Regions from separate parts of the Homo sapiens genome. Here region 1 is reported to be linked to region 2. Evidence: microRNA targets listed by miRTarBase, many of them from high-throughput screens and not tested one by one. Region 2 holds a microRNA gene; the other region holds the end of a gene's coding sequence.
Evidence for each region. The annotated mature microRNA hsa-miR-181a-2-3p reads ACCACUGACCGUUGACUGUACC and lies in region 2 at 2,103-2,124, opposite strand. An mRNA with a match to its seed (bases 2 to 7 or 8) in the 3' UTR can be bound and repressed. Matches are read on the target gene's strand: a 7mer-m8 pairs with bases 2 to 8, a 7mer-A1 pairs with bases 2 to 7 and ends in A, and an 8mer does both.

Region 1 (3,113 bases), not on the chromosome of region 2:
AAATCATTCATGAGGCAAGAACAATCTAGGTTAATCCAAATTAACATGGCCCAACATTGTTCCCTTCCTGGCTGAGCCAATTACTCCCACACGTACTACATTTTCTGCTGCATATACAACTTCAAACTACAGCTCAAGTTTTTTTCTTCAGTATGGTAAAATTCAATGTCATGAACCATGGCTAGGTTAAAATTCTGATTTAAACATTTTGGTGACTATATTTCTAACACTTTTTAGTTGCTTCAACACCTAATGGAGTTATAAAAAAGAAAAATAAATATATATAGCTCAGATTTTAATTCTCCTACTCTGCAACTCCAAATAAATTCAGAAAAATGTCTCAGTTTCATTTATTCAAAAAATGGCAATTTGTAGTAATAAATGCTAATCTGGGAGGCTGATTTGATTGTTCTAATTACCAAAAAGCTTAGCATTTTTTTTATTAGAAGAAGGGGAAGTGGGGAAGACAGTGAATATATAAAATATTACTTCCACCAAGCATATTTTTCTGCAATAAATGCATGGCATTTAATCAGTAACTATATAAATGTCCTCCATGGTTCACTGAATCTTTTACCACTCCATCACCATCACCGGCCCCCAAGCTATTTTGTATATGCGAGGACACGCGGGTAATTACCTGGACATTCCCCTTCTTTTTCCTTATGTAAAACAGTTGCCTGGTGGTTACTGTGTTTACAGATTTCTTGTATGCTGTGCTTTCAAGCATTAAGAATTCAAATTTATCTCACTATAGAAACAAGAACCCAAAGTGCCAAAAAATGATCATAAATACCAGTTGAACCCAACGGGTATAATACTTACATAATCCTCACTTTCACCACTTTTTCTTTCCCAATGAGGTAAGAGACAGACTATAGGCTACTCCCAAAATACTCAAAGATTTTTTTCCCTTTTTTATTTAACCATGTGTAATGTAACCCGTAAGAATGGAACCAGGTTCGTCTGAATCCATTGTGTCATTAATGTCCCTTTGAGAATCAATTCCATTACACTGGCCTTCACACATTCCACAGGACATTTCCTATGTCGGAGTTTTCTAAACTATGAAATTGTTATTCATTACTCTGTGAGTTTTGGAGAATCAAGACATGGAAGAGACATCCCATCAGTCTGTGCATACCTATGCATCGTGACATTAAATTGTCACCGGGTATGTACCCAAACCATTAAATGGGACCTTGCCTCAGAGATCATAAAGGCTACACCCTTTTGTAAGTAAAGCAAGGAAGGTCTGGGAAGGTTGGAAGTGACTTAAAACCCATCCAAGTCACTAGTGGCAAAATCAGGACCGAAATCCGGTCACCATAAAGGCCGGCTCCATGCTTGCTTCCGCATCACTGCTGTCTCATAGCACAATTCTCAGGTGGCCTTTCCTGGCTCTACCATGAATATGATAAAAATAAAAATAGGGGATGGGATAGAACAGAATAACCATTAGTGGTGCCACAATTTACAAACACAGGTTTCTATAAGATCCTGTCATTCATTTTTTCCCCAGCCTTCAAGATCAAATCTATTTATTGTCTTTTAACGTGTTTTATTCAAAATCTTTCTTCTTCTTAATTAGTTACATTTTCAGAGGGTGCATATGCATAGATGCAGTAAGTTTTCAGTTTAACTTCTTCTGAGATAGTTTACTGACATTGCCCTAGCTATTTTTTTCAACAAATAATGTTGGCATTTTTTTTTTTTTAAATAGAGGTGGGGTCTCACTATCTTACTCAGGCTGGTCCTCAACTCTTGGGCTCAAGCCATCCACCTGCCTCGGCCTCCAAAAGTGCTGGGATTACAGGCGTGATCCACCGTCCCTGGTCTATTTTTTTACTTCTATCCAAATATATTCAGAAAAATGGCCAATACAGTGCTCTGTTCTCTGATAAAGTAGTTATTGAAGGGGACTAGAAAAGTAAAACAAACAGAACAAAAAACCCAATAGTCTTTATTACTTCTTTTTAATTGTTTAACTTTATTACTGTTGCACCATTTATACAATTACATATAATTTCAATGCATCCATTGTACATTTTTTTGTTTTTTTTTTGTTTTTTTTTTCCATTTTCCAATGAGTGGTGTGTTGGTGTCTGTGACACAGAATGGAAGAGAAACTGGAACTGCAATGAACGCAGACTTTTTTTTTTTTTTTTTTTCATTTCCACTGACCAATAAACAGAACTACAGGTGCACCCAACCACGGACATGCATTAACTCGTCATGAGAAATCTAGGTAGGCTAAGTAGGATGAGAGAATGTTTGTCACTCCCAAAAATATCTGGAGAGGAAGAATGGAGGATTGGCATTGAGATCCATGTGGACAAGCTAAGTGGGCTCTGTCTGAAAGCTGGCATTCATCCACAACATTAAAAAAATATCAAAATAAGAAAGGCTGTAAATTAAAAAGAAAACACAGAAAATACTGCTCTCATAAAGATCTGATTGCCTTGGCACAGGCCCTGTGGGCAGAATCAAACGCATCACTCCCAACTCCCATTGCAGAAGAAAAGCTATTCAACTCTCAGCGGTGGAGGAGTGCATGTGGCGGCAGTTTCAGGTACAAACGATGTACTGCACTTTCAGACGCGGATCTTGGAAATCCAGGACTTCTTGGTAAAGTTGACTGAAGGTATATTAGATATTTCCCCACAAAAATACTATTTGGATTCTCCCACCCCCTCCCTCCCTTGATGGGACAACATCCTGTATTTTTCCTTGGGCAATACATATCATTACTTCCAATTTGAAACAAGTTAGTATAGGAGAGAGAGAGAGGAGAGATAGGAGAGGAGAGAGAGAGAGGAGATAGAGAGAGAGATAGAGAGAGAGAGAGAGAGAGAGAGAGGAGATTGTTTTAAGTGGTATTGTTTTTCCTATAGGCTGTCCTTGTCACTCTTTCACGGTTACGGTTTGGTCGGAATTAGCTGCCGGGGCCTCCACCGGCTTGGGCTCTTCTGCAGAGGCTGCGGGGCCCTGGGCCTTGGGTGTGGAACTAGGCGCTTCCGTGGCTGCGGGGGTCTCCTTGGAAGAGGGGGCAGCCTCCGAGCTGCCGGGTTTTGAGTCTGAAGCTGGGGCCCCGTCACTTTTGGTCTCCTGGG
Region 2 (3,254 bases):
TTTAGTGGCTTATCTCATGTTACAGGATTTAGAGAGTTGATACTACATTTAAATTTTTTGTTAAGAAAAATGTACATCTTCTATCTCACTTAGGTGTTTTTCCTGTTTGAGGGACATGGTTTGCAAAGGTTAGAATGAATGAGCCTCATAGTTTTTGTCAAAAGAGAATATTGATGTACATCTGAATAATAACCAGAACATTCATATTAAGTCATACTATATAGCCATTTAAAAGAATGACGAGTACATAAAAGACTGTTGTGGAAGTCTATGATATATAGCTGAATAACAAAATAGATTATAGAACAATAGGTAAAAATGAGCTTATTTTTGTCTAAGCCACTCTCCCCCCAAAACATGCAAAATTACAGCTATTTATCTGTGTATGTATGGATAAAGGTCTTCAAGGATATAAAATAAATTCTAGTTATGATATTTATTATCTTAATAAGTTTATTATAATTATACATGTTTTCCTCCGAGGAAATGGATTGCAGATGATGATTGAAGGGATTTTCAATTTTTACTTTGTATATTTTTGTATTTGAATTTCTAAATAATAAGCATATGATTCTGTTTAGAAATTCTGAATGTACTGATTTTTAAAATGTGATGTGATATCCAGATATGTATTTAATTCTTCCTATAAAATATCATTTCCTTAAATCTAGACTATTGAAAAAGGAGAAAAGTACTAGGAATTTAGAGAACTTACTCCATGTTAGAACCAAGGAGAACAAGAAAAGCTTTAGCTAGTGTTTTGGAAATAGTAGCAGCTCCCACTCACAGCAGTAGCTGCTGCACTCAGGCGACTCTCTGCACATGCTTTTGCTTCCTTTGGGTTGTTTGGTCCGCAGTTTGCATTCATTGATCAGTGAGTTGATTCAGACTCAAACCCACCGACAGCAATGAATGTTGAGTGCAGCCATCAGTGTTTTCAGTTGGTGGGGTTGCCTTTGCCCTCCCTGGCTGACTCCTGGCTCTTCTTTTCCATCTCAGTTCTTTGAAGTCTGTGTGTCTGGCTTCTCCCTTAGTAACCAGCCATCTGCATGATTGAGGGCCCACACAGGTGTCCATAACATTGACATTGGAGCTGGGAGGTTATTGCAGATGAGGAAGCTGTGGTTCAGAGAAGGAAGGAGTGCTTGGAGAACCTCACAGGTAGCACTGCGCCACACAGGCAGTGCTTGCATATTAGTACCTGTAAACCACAGCTGAGGGACCTGCTTTTCCTCTTTGTTTTGAACTGAGAAGTATGAGTGCTTTTTTGAGGTAAATTAGCAGATTATGTTGGAGTTTAATAATAACAGCTTACATATATTGAGCATTTGCTGTGGGCTAGTAATGGTACAAAGCACCTTATATATTATCTCATTGAGTCTCAAAACTCCATGATAGGTACTCTTAGCCTCTGTTTTATATGTGAGAAAACTGAGACACTTGCTTAGGGGGTCAAATAACTAGTTAAGGGCTTGAGCCAAGATTCATCCCAGATCTGACTGACTCCAGGGCTAAGTTTTTGCTTGAATTTAGCAAACATTTAAATAAGCATATGTGGGGATATGTGGGCACTAGTAAGGCAATAGCTCATGCTCTAACTGGGATATCAAAAATTAACCATATTAACTATAATTCAAAGTGAAATGTGATAAGAACTGTCACAATTGGATAATTTTGTGCTATTTTTGCTTATTAAATCCTCCCCTTGCCCCTAATTAAAAATTTTGAGAGGATGTGGGAGAAATGGGAGTAATTATTTAACTGGATTTTATTCCAAAACAAAATACGTATTTTTAATAAATTTTTACTTGCTACGTCCTGTTTCTCACCAGAATGGTGCATATCTAGGAGACATGTAGGTACATTAGATATCATCATGGACTGCTCCTTACCTTGTTGAAATGAAACACTTTTTTTGTAAAAACAAACAAATAATAATAAAACACACAACAGAAAGCAAGGAACAGTGAGCAGTAGGAATAAAATTCACTGGACCACATTTGGGGGATTGCAGGACCATTTCTGGTGAACTCATGTGACATGTGAAGGTACAGCTTGCTCTTTTGCTTCAGGAAATGTAGTGTCGTCTGTAAGGACCCCAAGGTACAGTCAACGGTCAGTGGTTTTTTCAAATCCCAAACTCACCGACAGCGTTGAATGTTCCTTGGAGTCCTCTGAAGGCTGGCCTGATAGCCCTTCTTCATTCTCCCATCCACATCCCAAGAACCAGTGAGCAGTGAGACCACCGCTGATGGATGCTCTTACATTCCTCTCTGGGTTTCAAGTCGAGAGTATTTAAATTATAAAATCAATTTGTGTGCAGCAGAGAACTAATGAACTGTGGGATAGACTGTGCAGTAATTTGTACAAGCAGACTCAAATGAATGTCTGAGAAAATGTCTTTGAATGGTATTATTTTGTGATTCTAAAAATGTAAAATACCTGATTTTGCAGTAGTATTTTAATTGTTAACAAGGGTAAGAGATTAACATATATTGGGGATCTGCTATATACTAGGATTTGTATATTTTATCTCATTAAATTCTCAACAACCCACATTTTCCTGATGAAAAAACTTGAAGTGATTTGCCTAAAGTTACATTGCCAGGAGCCAAGGTTATAAGCCAGAATTTGAATACTGGACTTCATGTTTCCAGTGCTCACTCATCATACTGCTTCTGTTGTCTACTACAGAACTTACTGTTGATATCTAGGAGTAGACCCATCACTGCAGAGCCAAAGTCAAACATGTAAATTTCTTCTACTTGTTTGCCTATAATAATAGCAGGTAGGTCTATAGGTGAGGTCATAGGGGAAGATGAAAAACCTCGACCTCCATGATTGATGATCTCCTTTGCTGAGATCCTGCATTACTAAGTTACCACAGAGGTGTTAGTGATAGTCCACAAGCTATTTTCCATATTGAAAAAGCAAAAAATAAACCAAAAACCCACCACCTAATGTAAAGCTTGCATTTCTTCTTAGTTGAGAACACAGAGTGTAACTAAAATGTCAGATGTCATTTGTTCTGGCTGAAACGATACCAGTACATTATAGGACATAGTGGTTATTTTTGATTCTGTTGAATGTCTGTGATGAAAAATTTGAAAAATGAATTAATAATATGAATCTTCAGAATATGTGATTTACAATGGGACAGATCTAGGAATACTTAATAGGAAAAGGGCTTACAGAACTGCCTGCTGAATTGAAGTTAATCTCTAAATGGGGATAGTTATTACTATTTGCTTTAG

Region 1: the mRNA of BASP1 is a reported target of hsa-miR-181a-2-3p. Seed matches in the 3' UTR shown: 8mer at 2,176-2,183.

What each region holds. Positions count from the first base shown.
Region 1 is chr5:17,275,692-17,278,804 of GRCh38, reverse strand. It overlaps BASP1 (brain abundant membrane attached signal protein 1), which reads right to left. Exons shown (of 2, transcript NM_006317.5): 2 at 1,971-3,113. The coding sequence ends at 2,905. Among named protein-coding and RNA genes, the nearest start is that of BASP1, 60 kb to the right of the region's middle. RefSeq lists an enhancer at 2,671-3,113.
Region 2 is chr9:124,691,388-124,694,641 of GRCh38, reverse strand. It overlaps MIR181A2 (microRNA 181a-2), which reads right to left and starts at 2,200; the gene lies at 2,091-2,200. The region is part of intron 2 of NR6A1 (nuclear receptor subfamily 6 group A member 1); the gene reads left to right. All of the region lies in intron 1 of MIR181A2HG (MIR181A2 host gene), which reads right to left. MIR181B2 (microRNA 181b-2) reads right to left here and starts at 932; the gene lies at 844-932.